Regions from separate parts of the Homo sapiens genome. Here region 1 is linked to region 2. A link means that fine-mapping ties the variant in region 2 to the expression of a gene that starts in the linked region. Tissue or cell type: whole blood. Region 2 holds a variant in brackets; the other region holds the start of a gene. All regions are shown on one strand. Distances are from middle to middle.

Region 1 (8,101 bases), 65 kb before region 2:
GAAGGTTATTACCTTACCTTTTGTGCCTCACTTGCCCCAGCTTTAAAATCAATCCTATCAGGGTTGTTGAGAAAGGGAGTTAAATGAAAAGTTATGTACAGTTGTTAATGAGTAACATTGAATGGAAAGAAACACACCAAAATGTTAACACTGGTTGCTTCTCGGAAGCGGGATAATGAATACTTTTAATTTCCATTTATAAATTTCTGTATTTCCCAAATTTTCTACAACTAGCATATTAATATTTATTGATTCTTCTGATTAGCTTTTAAAGATAGTTACTTTATAATAGAATTGTTTAGATAAGAGAAAAGCTACCATGATACCAGCTGAGCAACACAATCACACTAGCAATTTAAAATGTTATTGTACAGCTCTCAAAAAACAAAACCAAAGTGCCAAAGAATCATCTGGCAACAAATCTTTTCAAAGAGGAAGCATGAGAGAAGCATGAGCTTTGGTTTAAGATAGACCAGGGCTTGAATTCTGACCCCAACACTTACTAGTTGTATGACTGCAGAAAAACGACTTAACATTCCTGAAACTGTTTCTAATTTCCATTATTTGAGGCAACACCATGTATTAAAGGAGAAAAATATAAACAAAGGAGCGGGCATGTAACAGGAGTTCAATAAATGAGGACTGGTATTTCCTTCCAGTCACTGGCATATGTAATAATCACAGTGTAGCTACAATTCTGTTTTCTTCCTGTTATAGAAATAAAATTGATCTGCCCATTACATAAATTAATATCCTGCTTTCTGTGAATTGCTTCGTTTACCTTGCGTCTTTCTTCTGCAGCTTCTAATTTCTTCTGAATTTCCTCCAGGGAAAGATCCTTCTTCTTTGGAGGGGAAAGGGGGAATTCTGGAACAGATTCTTTTGACCGAGGGCTGAGAATCAGCTCAAAAGCCTGGCCTGAGGCACGCTTCTCCAGTTCTTTCACCTGGATATCTAGAATTGATTATATTTATAATTCAGAAAACCAGGATTCTCCTGTTCTAATAAACTGTACTATAATTTTCTAAAACCCAAATCAATTTAATGTATTAAACTAGGGCTGATGAGGAAAGTTGTGTTTTTTTTCCCCTTTTTATTCCTATCAGTCTACTGACACTAGGGGAAGATGTATTTGCAGGCAAGATATTATTATCTAAATACCATTTCCCAAGGCCAGGTACCATGGCTCATGCCTATAATCCCAGCACCGTGGGAGGCCAACATGGGAAGATCCCTTGAGCCCTGAAGTTTGAGACCAGCCTGGGCAACAAAGGGAAAGCCCATCTCTACAAAAAAAATTTTTTTTGATTAGGTGGGTGTGGTGGCCCATGTCGATAGTCCCAGATGCTATGGAGGCTGAGGTGGGAGAATCGCTTGAGCCCACTTGAGCTCCAGAAGTCAAGGCTGCAATGAGCTATAATTAAGCCACTGCACTCCAGCCTGGGCAACAAGGTGAGACCCTGTCTCAAAAAAAATAAAAACCATCTCCCAGAAAAACAAAGCTCAACATTTTTGGATTAATAAATACTGTTTTGAGACATCAGTATCTGACAATCGCTTTCATAAACAAAAGACTTGTGCAAACTCCACAATTTTGCTTCAGACTAAGCCAAACTGTCCAATAAACAATTACGAGCTCTCGGCACATTCAAGTGATAATCATTTTTAAATTCTTCTCCTATTCATAAAATAGGTTTTGGTAAGACCAAAACATAAGTGCCAAATCAAAGGCGAAGACCTGAGCCATCTCAATCTAAAATCATAAGCCCATTACAATTTCAGATTTTCCAAATAGATTACCTACCAGAAGAAGCCATGGTGAATAGAAGACAAGCGACAGGCAGTGTATTCTGCACAATCAACTGGGATAAGGAAAGTCCTGAAAATGATTTTCAAAAACATGCAATCACTTTCTTTGCCTTTCTATATGTCATCAACCCAAAAAAATCTCACATCACATCTACATACATCGTCAGAAAAATACGTGGAATAAAGACGTCTAAATTAACCACGAAAAAAATTATCAAAATCTACTAAATAAACATTGGGAAATATGACCTGAATATGATATTGGTTCCAGAAAATCAAGTTAACTGAGCTTTCTCGGTCATAAAACTCTTGGATTTTTAAAATCAGACAAAGTCACAAGGGTGAAGAATTTTTCCCCCATAAACTCTTTAACATTTCACCGAAACTGTAAGAAGATATTCCAGATTCAACTCAACAGTGCCCCCGGAGCCATCTTAATACTGCCTACAACTCATTGTGCAAATGAAATACCCACCCCTGCTTTGTCTGTGTCTGACGTGGTGGATAAGAAAACGCCCAAGCTAATAGTAACCAATAATGTTGAACTCCTATTGTCCCTCAGGTTTAAGCTTCCTTGCCCAACAGCAAGCAAAATGTTTATGAACCTCTAGATTTTGACTTATATTTGCTGCCGTTATGTCATGAAAAATGCTGTATCTCTTGTTGATCTTTTTAACATTATGACTTTTGTAGACGCCAGCTAGTACCAAAAACGTAGGATGACAGGTTCCCAAAAGCTAGGAATTAAAATCAGAGGCAGCGACAAGATTTAAGAAAAGCAGAGAATTAGACGCAGCACCGGACCCAGGATGGGCGTGGCCCTGGTCCGGGCGAGGAAAAGAGGACCGGTCGCCCCCGGCCAATCAGAGCACGCCTTGCGCTCCGGCCCCTGGCCCCGCCCCCTTCCTCCCCGCGCCTTTTCGAATCTCCCCGAACTCAACACCCCGGAGCCCGCGCGCGTGGGAAGGGGAGGGGTGGGCGGGGCTAACGGTCCAATCCGGGTAACTCCGCCCCTGCCTGACTCCCCCTGCGCGGACGCCCCCCCCAACTCCCGCCAAAAACACCTCCAGGCCGCCGCCACCACCCCCTTCACAGTTCAGCGGGTGGGGCAGGCCCCGGGAACAGGCCCCCGGGTGGTCCCGCGGTGAGCTCGCCACCGCCTCCCGCCGTCCCCATGCCCAACCTGCCGCCACCCACGCTGTCCGCGCGTCCGGCCGCGAAGACAGAAGAACCCTCGTGGGGCCCGGGAGCGCCGCCCCTCAATCACCAGCTGCGGTCGCCAGGGGACGGTCGCAGGGAGGGTCGCGGCCCTGGCTGCCCGCAGTTTGGTCCTAAAGCCGCTGGTCCCTGGGGCACCGCCCCGTCCCTTCAGACAATGGGGAACCCGGCGGGGCCCGCAGGGAAGGGAGGGAGGGAGGGAGGTAAACGAGGGCCCACGCCCCCTATTGTCTCCTCGACGGCACCCCGGAGCGGACGCCCGGTGATCGCCCAGCCCCCTGCCCACGAACAGCCGCGCCCCCGGAGAGCGGGGACAAAGGCGAGGCTCCGCCCGAGCCACACACAAAGCGGAGCGACCCCCGCCCACCAACCCCTCCGAGGCCCGCAGCCCCGCCCGCCGCCCTGCAGCAGGGGGTCGCTGCCACGGCCCAGCCCCTCCCGCCGACCGCGTCCCTCTTGCTGGCCTCAGCCAGCCGCCGCCTCCTCCGAGCCCCGCACCCACCTGCTCAGTCCGAGCCGCCTGACCACACTCTGAGCACCAACAGACCCGGGCGCGCACAAAAGCGCCAAACAGAGGCACGTGACCTCCGCGCGGGGCTCCGCATTGGCCGAGAGCGGCGGCACGTGCCGCCCCCGCCCCCCACAACCCGCGTGGAGCGCCGCCCCCCGGGACCCCGAAGCACCTCGGGAAGTGTAGTCCTGTCCCGGAGGGCAGGAGGACAATGCCGGGGGTTGCAGGGCGCCTGGGGAGCATCCCCAGGTGTGGGCCTGGGACTAGGGGGGTGGTCTCGCCGTGGAAGAGGGCGTGGCAGTGGACCCCGGACTAGGTCCGAACCAGCTCCCCATTCTCGAGAACAAGGGCAGGGCGGAGCAGGCGGAGGGCGGGGGGGTCCTTCCCTACCTTTCCAAACTTTGGCCGCCTGGACTCCACCTTGTAGAGCCACATGCCCGCCTCGCCCCAAGGGCAGCACTCGGACAGAGCAGTGCCCCTTCTAGTGCGCCACCCACATGGGTGCCTAAGACGCCCGAGCCCCTGTGACAGCACAATGCCACTCCACGCCCCTGCAGGGCCCCCTGCCCCCGGCACCCTACACCGACACCGGCGTGTCACCCATATTGTGACATCATCGTAATTTCTAATCCACTCAGCCCACAGGTCGCGGGCGTGGCCCTTCCCTCACTGTGTGCGTTCTTGCCAGCATCCTCAGGTTCCCGAGCCGGTGACCAGGGACCTGTGCGGGAAAGCGTGGGGCTCTGGAATTTGATCGCCTTTGGTCTAACAAAGCCACTCAGCTTAAATGCAGACTCCATCTGTTCTTCCAAGCCTTCTGCGGATGATAGGGGAGGAAGAGCAATAGCCGTTCTAGACTACACAGATTGCAGTTAAGTGTTGCTTTTGTTCTCAGAGCACGTGCTCCCCAGAGCAGCACTGGGTTCTTTTTAAAAATCGAAAAAGGAGCCACAAGGTCACTGTTCTCCCTGACCTGGATAGCTCAGAACCTCAGCAAAGGCACAAAGGAAATTGGTCTGACCGTGCCTTAGAATAACTGGCCCTTTCTCTCACAAAAAGGGGAAAAAAATAAATGAAATGAACATGGTCCCCGCCTCCTCCCATTCTCTGACCAAGACCGTGTCCTCGGTTGGTGGTCAATACACCAAGACACCTGCTTTGAGATCTTGACTAAGCAGAAGAGATATCTTTATTTTATTAATGAGCTGCATCTCCCCAAATCAAGAAACAAATGTGACCAACCTTCCTGAAACAACAGTCCTAATTTAGAAAGACTCTCATGCCTAGTTAGTCACCAGGGATGTGCCAGAGATAAAATACAACTAAGGGGTGCCCAAGACAATAAAAACTGGATCATACAAGCAGCAGCACACTACACAAAGCAAACAATTAGCAATGCGCTGTTGCCTGAAATATGCTTGTTGCGGCATTTTTTCCAACAATCGCCCTTGTGTGGGGTCGGCCTCCCCCCCAAGCCAATCGAAGTGGTTTTCACTTAGCCTGTGAGCAGGACCAGGAATAATTCAGATACTGAGCCTTGAAAGGCTTCTTCTCAGACCAAACTTAGCTTCAAAATGGCTAGGTGCTTCCGTCTGTCATTTTTCTGAACAGAATCTCAGACATCATTAGAAAAGTTGGAGAAGGATGGGCATGAGACCCCTCAGGAAAGCGACAGATAGGCAGGCAACACAAATGAGCAAGGAACCCAAGCCCAAGAGGTCCTTACCCACTGAACAGGCTTTTTATCTTGAAGTCTTTGTATTTGATCTGGAGGTTCACAGAGGAAGGTCCCACTCATTTAATGCATTTTTTTAAGTACAATAAATTGCCACACAAAAGTCTCACATTCCTGACTATTAATGTTGTGACAGAAAAAAGAAATAAATCTTTCAAAACACTGATAATTTGAAAGCACTTACACTGCTTCCCCCCACATTTTCTTTCTCCCTAGAGCAGATGTCTATTTCCATGGAAACCATAGCAAGGAACGTAGATGTTAGAACTCATGTTCATTTTTAATCTTTTTTAGCAATGCCACTTGGCTTCTGGGTTTGTTGGGAGATGCCTGGTTCTGCCAGTCTGTGACAATGTTCCAAGCTCCTCACAGCTGCTTGAGGACTGAGAGGGCTGGGTTAAAGTTTCCCCTAGAATGAGCCTTTGAATAAAAAGGTGCTTTTGAGGTGGGATTCCTGTCCTTTTATTATTATTATTATTATTATTATTATTATTATTATTATTATTATTATTTGACTTAAAAAAAATTGAGACAGGGTCTCACTATGTTGCCCAGGTTGGCCTCGAACTCCTGGGTTCAAGCAATCCTCTTGTCTCAGCCTCCCAAAGTGCTGGGATTACAGGCATGAGCCACCACACCCAGTCTGATCCTTGTTCTTTAGGGTGGGGCTGCCTTCCCAAGAGCCAGATCACAGCTCATTATTGTCAGCTTTTGTGGGTGTCCTATATAAGCCTTGGAATAGGAAGGGCTTTCAACTGTAAGGAGAGACAACAGTTTTGCCACTTCACCTTGGAGAGGGGCAGAATCGCCCTTCTCGAAAGCTTCCTAAAACGAACTTCAAGATCCACTCTCTTCTGAAGTGGCAGCAAGGAGTTAATGTTCACATCTTGGAACTGTCTATCTTTGCCCATAAGAATTATTTTTGCTTCTGCTCAGATGGTTTGGTTGGATTGTTATGGAGCTGGCTGTGACTATGGAGCCACACAACGAAGTGGAGATAGGGCAGTCATCCAGCTTATTTGATCTGTGTAGACAGCTAAAGGAGAGCACTTCAGGCTTCAAAGTCTAGAAGGAATGTCTACACTGATCAAACGGCGGGCCAGGCCGTTGTCAGATCTCCTCTCCTGCCAGAGAGCCCGGCAGCCTTTGTTCATTGTTGGGCTTGAGGCTGCAGGGTTTGTCTCCCACATGGCGCCTCCAAGTTCCACAGCTGCTTTCGAGGCCTGTCCTCGGCCAAAGGGTGTCGTGGGAGAGGTTTGCTTGTTGTCCCCGGTCTCTCTGTTCCCTTTGTCTCCTAATCCTCAAGCACTATGCTCTAACACTCCCTTCTCTATTCAAAACCTGTCTATGAGTCTGCTGTTTTACACATCGATCTCCCTCACTAGACCATTAGGTCCTAGAGGGCAGGGTGCTGTCTTTGTCTTGGTATCCCTAGTGCAGTGCCCATCCTCAGGCCTGGCCCAGGATGATGGCGCCTGAATGTTTGCAGAGAACTTTGGGAAAGAACAACCTCTTGGCCGGGCACGCTGGCTCACACCTCTAATCCCAGCACTTTGGGAGGCTGAGGCAGGCGGATCACAAGGTCAGGAGATCGAGACCATCCTGGCTAACACGATGAAACCCCGTCTCTACTAAAAATACAAAAAATTAGCCAGGCATGGTGGCGGGCGCCTGTAGTCCCAGCTACGCACGAGGCTGAGGCAGGAGAATGGCATGAACCTGGGAGGTGGAGGTTGCAGTGAGCCGAGTTCACGCCACTGCCTTCCAGCCTGGGCGACACAGCAAGACTCCGTCTCACAAAAAAAAAAAAAAAGAACAACCTCTCTCATCCTTCTGTGATCTTCTGTCTCTTCTGTGATATTAGACACTTGCACTCTGGGAGTGGTGAGGATTAAATGAAATAATGTAAATGAAAACAGCACAATGCCTGGCACATTTAAAGTGCTGTGCACTTGTTAGGTATCATTGCTAGAGATGTTTCCTGATTGCTATAGATTATTTTATTTTTATTTTTTGAGACGGAGTTTTGCTTTTGTTGCCCAGGCTGCAGTGCAGTGGTGCAATCTCAGCTCACTGCAACCTCCGCCTCCCAGGTTCAAGCGATTCTCCCGCCTCAGCCTCCTGAGTAGCTGGGATTACAGGTGTGCGCCACCATGCCCAGCTAATTTTTTGTATTTTTAGTAGAGATGGGGTTTCATCACGTTGATCAGGCTGGTCTCAAACTCCTGACCTCAGGTGATCCACCTGCCTCGGCCTCCCAAAGTGCAGGGATTACAGGCGTGAGCCGCGGTGCCTGGCCTGCTATAGGTTATTGAATGAGTGAATGACTATTAGACTTTCACCCTTTGATGGAAATTGTAGTTACTGGGTTAACTCTTCCCATGGGGTTAAATTCAATTCATTTAACACTTTATTTTTTATTTTTATTTTTATTTTTATTTTTTTGAGCAACAAGGCTGTTTATTTCACCTGGATGCAGGCGGGCTGAGTCCGAAAAGAGAGTCAGCAAAGGGTGGTGGGATTATCATTGGTTCTTATAGGTTTTGGGATAGGCAGTAGAGTTAAGAGCAATGTTTTGGGGGCAGGGGATGGATCTCACAAAGTACATTCTCAAGGGTGGGGAGAATTACAAAGAAACTTCTTAAGGGTGGGTGACATTATAAAGAACCTTCTTAAGGGTGGGGGAGATTACAAAGTACATTGATCAGTTAAGGTGGGGCAGAAACAAATCACAATGGTGGAATGTCATCAGTTAAGGCTATTTTCACTTCTGTGGATCTTCAGTTGCTTCAGGCCATCTTGATATATACGTGCAGGTCACTGGGGAT
Region 2 (8,101 bases):
CATGGTGGTGGGTGCCTGTAATCCCAGCTACTCGGGAGGCTGAGGCAGGAGAATTGCTTGAACCTGGGAGCAGAGGTTGCAGTGAGCTGAGATGGCAGCTACTGCCTTCCAGCCTGGGTGACAGAGTGAGACTCTGTCCTAAATAAATAAATAAATAAATAAATAAAATAAAGAGGGAAAAATCACTGGCGCAATCATGTTGAGCAGACAGAAGAGGATGGAATCTTGTGTTGGGGGGTTGGCCTTAATGAGGCAACTGAGGTGGGAACTCTAGTAACCGAAAGGAAAGCTGATTATACACAGGAAGGTGGGGAGAGGTGGTGTTGGGAGTCTGAGGAAGTGCTGGTTGCTTCCATTTTCTTGGTGAAGTGGGAGGCAAAGTTAACTGAGAGACAGGATAAGGGAAGAGGTGTGAGAGGTTCGAGGAGAAAAAAGGTGTGAAATAGTCTTCCAGGAGAGTGGGAGAGGAGAGTAGGTGGAGACAGGAGCTGCATGGAGTTAATATGAAGGAAGCACCAGTCTTCATAGAAGATCATATCCCCAGAACAGCCAAACAAGTGCTCTCAGAAGGAATTTTTTTCAGAGTGAGAGGTTCAGCTGAGCCACTTACAGCCTATTTTAGTTTCCCATGTGACAATGTACTGTGTGCCTACTAAAAGCTTTTCTCTCTTTGTAAAGCTAATTTGCCCAAGCCCACAGCCTTGGCCTTTTTCTTTTCTTTTGAGACAGGGTCTCACTGTGTTACCCAGGGTGGAGTGCAGTGGCACAATCACAGCTCACTGCAGCTTCAACCTCCTAGGCTCAAGCAATCCTCCTGCCTCAGCCTCCTAAAATGCTGGGATTATAGACGTGAGCCACTGTGCCCAACTTTTTCAGACTGTCTTATCTCTTATCACTCGGATTACTGCAAAAGCCTCCTACCTAAGAGCTCCCTGCCTCTCACCTTGCCCCATCCTCCACAATGCACCAGACTGTGAACACAAGTCTAATCACAACATTCACCTGCTTAGAACTCACCAGGGGCTCCTGACAGCCTGTGGAATAACATTCAAACTCACTTCAGCAAATCCATAGGCTTCTTCCTCTGGCTTCTGCCCACTTCTCTATCTTTGCCTTTCAACAATTCACTCTCCTGAGCTCCAGATACACTAAACACAGTTTCCCAATCCTGACCAGGCCCACTCAAGCATTTATGCCTTCTGTCCAGAAGACCCTCGCCCTTTCCTGCCTGTGAACCCTCCACTAAGATTAAAGGCAAACATTGTGTTGTCAAGGAAGCCCCCTTTCCTAGCTGTTCTTCCTCTCCTGTCAAAGTTAGGAGACTGTCCTCCGTGTGGACAGTCTAAAGACTGAGTGCCTACTGTGGCCATGGAACTTATCACTCTGAATTGTCACCAGAGTCACCGCCAGCATAGTGAAGTGACTAAGGGCATGGGCCTTGGAATTGGCCAGTCTAGGTTACATATTGGCTTTGCCACTTGATAACCAGATAACCTTAAAGAAATTACTTAAATTTCCTACGCTTTGGTATCCTCCCCTGTAAAATGCAGTTAATAATAAAGGTATCTACTGGAAAGGGCTGTCTCTAGAATTACACGCGATAAAGCAGGAGCAGAAGGCCTGGCATAAAGTAAGTCCTCAAAAATCTTCTTTCAGTCTAAGTGCCTCCTACCTCCCATTTCCATGTCTGCTAGCAGGTTTCTAACAGTGAGTATCTTAGCTCAACGGGTATTGCTTTTAAAGGGAGCCCAATCGTGCCATGGTGGGCTTCCCATCATCTTTCATCTTAAGCTTTTATAATGACATGGTGCCTATGAGGGGACAGGGGAAGGGGGCTGAGGACCAGGCAGTCAGGCGCCATTAAAGTCTTGAGACATGGGTCCATTCCCTGCTTGCCAGGTGATAAGAATGATGCCCTAAAATCTCTTATTGACCCTAAGGTCTCCAAACACAGGCTGGAATCAAGGCTCACGATGTGTAAGATGAAACGAACAGGCAGAAATATAAAAATGAAAATTTACTTCCAAAAAGTCAATAAATGCGTAAGACAGATGTGTTTTAAATGCAAACTCAATCCAGGCTGTTTGTTGTGCACTTGTGAGGAATGTGAATGCACTCAGGTCATCCAACTAAAAGGCTAGTGTCCAGAGCACAGAGACGGCCAGGCGCGATGGCTCACACCTGTAATCCCAGCACTTTGGGAGGCCGAGGCAGGTGGATCACTGGAGGTTAGGAGTTCGAGACCAGCCAGGCCAACATGGTGAAACCCTGTCTCTACTAAAAATACAAAAAGTAGCTGGGTGTGGTGGCACATGCCTGTAGTCCCAGCTACTTGGGAGGCTGTGGCAGGAGAACTGCCGGAGAATCGCTTGAACCCAGGAGGTTGAGGTTGCAGTGAGCTGAGATCACACCACTGCACTCCAGCCTGAGAGACAGAGTGAGACTCCGTCTCAAACAAAACAAAACAAAACAAAAAACAGAGCACAGAAGAGACTGTCCAGGATGGCACCGGTCAGACCACATCTAATACATTATAGTCAAGTCAGGGCACCACAGTTTATCTATTTATTTTATTTTTTGGAGACGGTATCACTCTGTTGCCCAGGCTGGAGTGCAATGGCATGATCTTGGCTCACTGCAGTCTTGACCTCCCAGGCTCAAGTGATCCTTCCACCCCAGCCTCCCGAGTAGCTGGGACTATAGGCACATGCCACCATACCTGGCTAATTTTATTTATTTTTTTGCTGAGATGGGGTCTCACTATGTTGCACAGGCTGGTCTCAAACCCGTGGCCTCAAGCAATCCTCCCATCTCAGCCTCCCAAAGTAGCTGGGATTACAGATGTTGAGCTACCACACCCGGCCAGGGCACTACACTTTAGAAGGGGCACCAAAAAACAGCGACTCCAAAGGAAGGGGATAACAAATAGCAACATGGGGAATTGAACCGGGACAGGTGGAGGTACCACGAACATTTAGTTTAATAAACAGAACACTCAGAGAAGACTAGCATAGGTGACTTCAAATATCTAGGGAACTGCCAGGTGCCGTCTGAGGCTTCTATGGGTAGCTCTTGAGGGGTTAACCTGGGCAAGTAGAGGAGGGTTACAAACTAGGAGATCTTGCTCTTAGGTTAGAGTTAAGTCAAACCTTTGAAATTCAGACAAGCCTGGCTCCTTTCTCATGGAAACTGCCCTGCACACAGCACCTGCTGAGGGATCAGAAAGGGACCTCTGATGCAGAGAGCTCAGAGCCTAGCTGGGACGGGGCTACAGTGTGTTCTGGTGGGCAAAGAGGAGCTGATACAATCAAATTGCCTCTCTTGGAAATCTGTTCAAAGAAATCCAAAAAAATATGGCAGTGAGCAGTGGGAGCTGAAGATGAAAGGATGCCGCAAGCTAAAGGGAACACACTCTGAGTGGTTCAAGCCGAGTGAAGTTATGAGGAAGCAGAAATGGAATAAACAGC[T/G]GCTATCAGTGAGAGAAAAACCACAGAGCAGAAAAAAAAATGCATAACGGAACAAAGAAAAAGAGATGTCGTGAGAGGAAGACACAGAGAGACTGAACCCATGAGACAGACGGAAAGAAAAGTCAGTCCTGCCAGCCACCCTGATTTCTATAACTGCACTCCCACCCAGTCCAGGTGCACTCTCATAAACAAACTCCCCTTTTTTTCTCAAGCTAAGTTTGTGAACCTCTAGTCTTTGTAACCAATAAAGCTTAATAAGAGGATGCCTCCTCTGGGTGGAAGCTGGACCATGGACCTCTGCAGGCCTCGCCCTTTAGCTGCTCTATGACTGATGACATTATTCATAGTCCTTCCATGCTTTGTTTCTTTAAAACACTTCCATAAATTTAGCCCGTTATCCTCATAAACTCCCCTACAATGCAGATAAGGTGGGCAATAATGAGTCTGGGTAAGGAGAGAGGTGGTGGAGTAGAGAGAGGTGAATACTCCATTTACAGGGAGGAAACCAAGGTTCAGAGAGGTTAAATGACTAGGCCAGGTCATTCTGCAAGTAAGATAGTCAGGATCTCCAAACTTTCAGTTAAGTATTTTTTCTTATTTATTTGTTTAATTATTTATTTAGAAACAAGGTCTTGCTCTGTTGCTCAGACTGGAGTTCAGTGGTGCAATCATGGCTCACTGCAGCCTAGACCTCCTAGGCTTAACTGATCCTCCCACCGTAGCCTCTCGAGTAGCTGGGACTATAGGTGTGTGCCACCACACCCAGCTAATTTTTTTTTTTTTTTGGTAAAGATAGAGTCTCACTATGTTGCTCAGACTGGTCTCGAACTCCTGGCCCCAAGCCATCCTCCCACCTCAACCCACCAAAGTGCTAGGATTACAGGCGTGAGCCACTGCACCTGGACTTGTTTTTTCTGTAATTCTATGTAAGTCTCTCCTTCACTCAGGTTTTCCATTTGCCATAAATCTCCTTCCCAGATCCCAGACATGTCAGAGTTCTCACTCTGCTGCAAGGAAATCTAAGGGACCCCACAGCTGCCCCAAGAGCCCCAGTTTTCTCCTTACCGAGGTGCTTCTGCAGGAAGGCCAACATGGCCCGTACCATAACCTCCTGCCCTTCATAGGGGTCCAGGCTCCCACGGGTTTCAGTGGAGAAGAATTTACCAATCAAGTTGCCAGTCACAAAAGCAAAGTCAGTTTGACTCCGATGAACAGAACCACTAGGGGAAAAGAAAAACAACTGGCAGGGGTCTGGCGGCTAGGGCATACAGATGTGTGTTAGGCACCTACTATGTGCAAGGTGCTTTTCATGTATTATCACACTTTATTTTCACAGCAACCTTGTAAGGGAAGTATTTTCCCCCTTGACAGAATCCAAGGAGAGAAACTATCTGCTTAGGGTCAGGTCATACAAGTAGTTGGGGATGGAGTTAGGATTTGAAGCCAGATGTGCTTGGCTTCAAAGCTGGCTTGACCCGTAGACTACAATGCCTGGCAGTGCAGGGAAAAGGTTGAGCTAGCAGGAGCAGGGACAGGAGCAAGGAGGTGGGATCTGTGGCACGTGGCATTTCTATGTTACTACAATCTATTAGCTGTGGCTTTTGCCTGGTGAATTTCAAACATTCACAAAACAAATGAAGTTATTCTTCAGAACTGTACCACAGAGTGAAGAGGGAAAAGGAATTACTTGCCTTTATTTAAACAATCAGAAAAGTAAGAGTGAGTGCTTTGTAAAAGGGGGTTTCTGGGTTGGAACTTAAGTCCTTTGGCAGAAAATAAATTTAATTTGCAGGTGAAATCCTTGCTAGGTTAATTTTGGGCTAAATTATTCATAACTGAATTTACTAGTCAATTCAGTGAGAGAAAGAGAATCTAAATGCTAAAGTATTTGTCTGATATCACAGAAAAACTGACTTTAAAAAATGCATTAGTTAAGGCACACAAAAAGGTGTATAGAATAATATATGGGATACTTGAGTATCCAGCACTCAGTTGAATAAACGATACATTGCCAGGCGTTAAGTCCCCTGAGTGTACCCCTTCCCAACTGGCCTCACCTCCTTTCCCTCCTGAATCTGACCTGGGGAAGCATTCAGGCAGTGTCTACTGCCATGAAACCTAACTGAACGAGGAGGGGTGGCCCTAGGAAAGAGGGCCAGGACCAAGATGAGCAAGGGAAGAAGCCACTGGCCATACTGCCGGCCCCAGTGCTCGAGGGCTCTGGATTTGGCACTTCAACTACCCAGTGACTCCAAAGGTCCATGGTATGCAGTCACTTGTCATTCTGCTGAAATAGGAACCAGATGGATCCCTGGATCCTGTGTGCCGCTGGGCTCAACTGCAGGGCAGGAGCAGTCCGTGAGATCTCAGCCCGACATCTGTGGCTCAATATCACCTCCCACATGTGGAACATTTCTTAAAGTCACTAAAAATGTTTTTTTCCCTGTGAAAAATGGCTCCCAAAAGAAAACTAACTGATAGTGCTGATGATGGAAGTGAAAAAATGTGGCTTCTCTTGACCAGAATATAGAAGGTTTATGGAAGACAACATATGTTAACAGTGATCTGTGATTCTGGTATTCATGAAGGTCTCTAGAAATGTGTCTGGTGAATATCAAAGGTCTACCATATTCACACTCTTCCAAAGACCCAATAAAATTCCCAAATGAGGCTAGCAATCTCTGGAACTCATCCAAACCCACACCACTTCCTTTCCAACACCCAACCCCATAATGCCCTTTTTCAGAAAGTACTAGGTAAATCCTGTCATAAAGTCAGATAAACTATGGAATAAATCACTGTAGATGGAGCTCAGTGGAGAAGAAGGACAGACAGAAAATTCTAAAAGAATTTAGACTTTGCAATTCAGGAAGTATTCAGGTATCCTACTAATGGGTAGAAAGTTTTGGGTAATCCAGAAGTTAAGGGCACCACAGCAAGTGGCAAATGGAGAGGGCCCTGGGATCACGACCTTGTGGTTTACTCACAGAACGGTTATGATCCTAGACTGTTCATGCTGGGCACATATCTTCTTCATCAAATTGACACTCTCCATTGTCTGGAATTTCTCAGTATTGATAAAGAACACAGGTCCTCGGGCCTTGGGGTAAAAGTCACGTTCCAGAGGAAACATCCAAGCATCCAGAGCCACCGCACACCTGGAATAGGACCAGACATTTGGAATTGCCATGCGGATCCCAGGCAAGAATAGTTAGGGTGGTGGAGGGAAGGGCGGAGTTCCTCCCTCTGGTGGGGTAAAGGCTCAGAAAGCCAGGAGGGGGGTACCAGGGCCCACGGCCTTCAGTCAGGATCTTAGGTAGGGATCACTTTTACTTTTCACCAAAGATCCTTCTAGATTTCAAACTCTCTGAGAACAAGGATCAGATATCCCTCTTCTCCTGGATCTACTCTCAGGTGACTGACCTGAGTTCCACAGAATGGCACTTCATTCATTTAATTATTCATTCATTCAACATTCATTGAGTGTCTACTATGTGCTTTGGATATAGACATAAATGAGTGTTCCTGCTTTCAAGGAGCTCCCAGTCCAGCAGGGAAGACAGAATAGACAAAGTGGCAAAACAATATAACTTAGTGCCCTGATTGCACAAGGTTCTATGTGAGGTCAGGAAAAGCCTCCTTGGTGCCAACAGCAAAACCATGTCACCAAGAGCAATATTATGGGCCTTAAGATTTTGCCATTTCCTTCCTCAGACCCCTGAAATGCTCCTCTATTCTTCTCCATCTCAATAAAGGACAATCATCTTCCACTCAAATAATAGATACACAAATGAAAAACCTTGGGCTGGGCATGGTGGTTCATCCCTGTAATCCCAGCACTTTGGGAGGCTGAGGCAGGAGGATCACTTGAGCCCAAGAGTTCAAGACCAGCCTGGGCAACATAGCAAGACACCATCTCTTAAAAAAAAAAATTAAAAAATTAGCAGGGCATGGTAGCATGTACCTGTAGTCCCAGCTATTTGAGAGGTTGAGGCATCACTTGAGCCCAGGAGGTTGAGGCTGCAGTGAGCTGATTGTACCACTGCACTCCAGCATAGGGCAACAGAGCAAGACCCTGTCTCAGAGGGAAAAAAATAAGAAGAAAAACCTGGATTTCCTCTCTTTCCTTCACCTCCCACATGACCAAATCCTGAAAACTCTAAGACATATCCTGACTCCAATCACTTCTCTCCATCCCACTATCTCAATCCTGATGTAAATTTATCATCTTTCACATTGACTCTGAAACAGAATCTCTCTAATGAGCCTCTAGGCTTTCAGTCTTGTCCTGCTACAATCCATTCTTCACATAGTAGCCAGAAGGATCTTTTAAAATGTAAGACTGATATTTCTCTGTTGAAAATCTTCAACAGTTTCCCATCATACGTAGAATAAAATATACACCTCCTTACCCTGGCCAGATGACCCTGTGATCTGGCCCCTGCTTCTCTCTCTGATCACAGCTTAAATTGCCTCCCCCTCACTCACTACGCTCCTCCCACCCTAACACAGCAAGCTTCTTTCCACTGCAGGGCCTTTGCATTAGCTATTCCTGCTGGCTGGAAAGATCTTCCTCTAGATCTTCACACGACTGGCTTCTTTGCCTTCCCAGTCTTGATTTCACTTTCTCAGAG

Evidence for each region. PIP is the estimated chance that this variant, and not a neighbour inherited with it, causes the effect.
Region 1: it holds the start of STMN1, and the variant in region 2 is fine-mapped to the expression of STMN1 in whole blood (INTERVAL, PIP 0.92).

Annotation. Positions count from the first base shown.
Region 1 is chr1:25,902,860-25,910,960 of GRCh38, forward strand. It overlaps STMN1 (stathmin 1), which reads right to left and starts at 3,560. Exons shown (of 5, transcript NM_005563.4): 1 at 3,530-3,560; 2 at 1,805-1,879; 3 at 782-954. The coding sequence starts at 1,817. It overlaps MIR3917 (microRNA 3917), which reads right to left and starts at 3,595; the gene lies at 3,503-3,595. LOC105376885 (a long non-coding RNA gene) reads left to right here and starts at 3,691. Exons shown (of 2, transcript XR_947102.1): 1 at 3,691-3,787; 2 at 4,177-5,384. RefSeq lists silencers at 2,499-2,793, 2,573-2,992, 3,383-3,472, 3,493-3,802.
Region 2 is chr1:25,968,026-25,976,126 of GRCh38, forward strand. It overlaps PAFAH2 (platelet activating factor acetylhydrolase 2), which reads right to left. Exons shown (of 11, transcript NM_000437.4): 9 at 6,455-6,625; 10 at 4,533-4,687. Among named protein-coding and RNA genes, the nearest start is that of PAFAH2, 26 kb to the right of the region's middle. The variant T/G (reference allele first, on the strand shown) is at 3,468.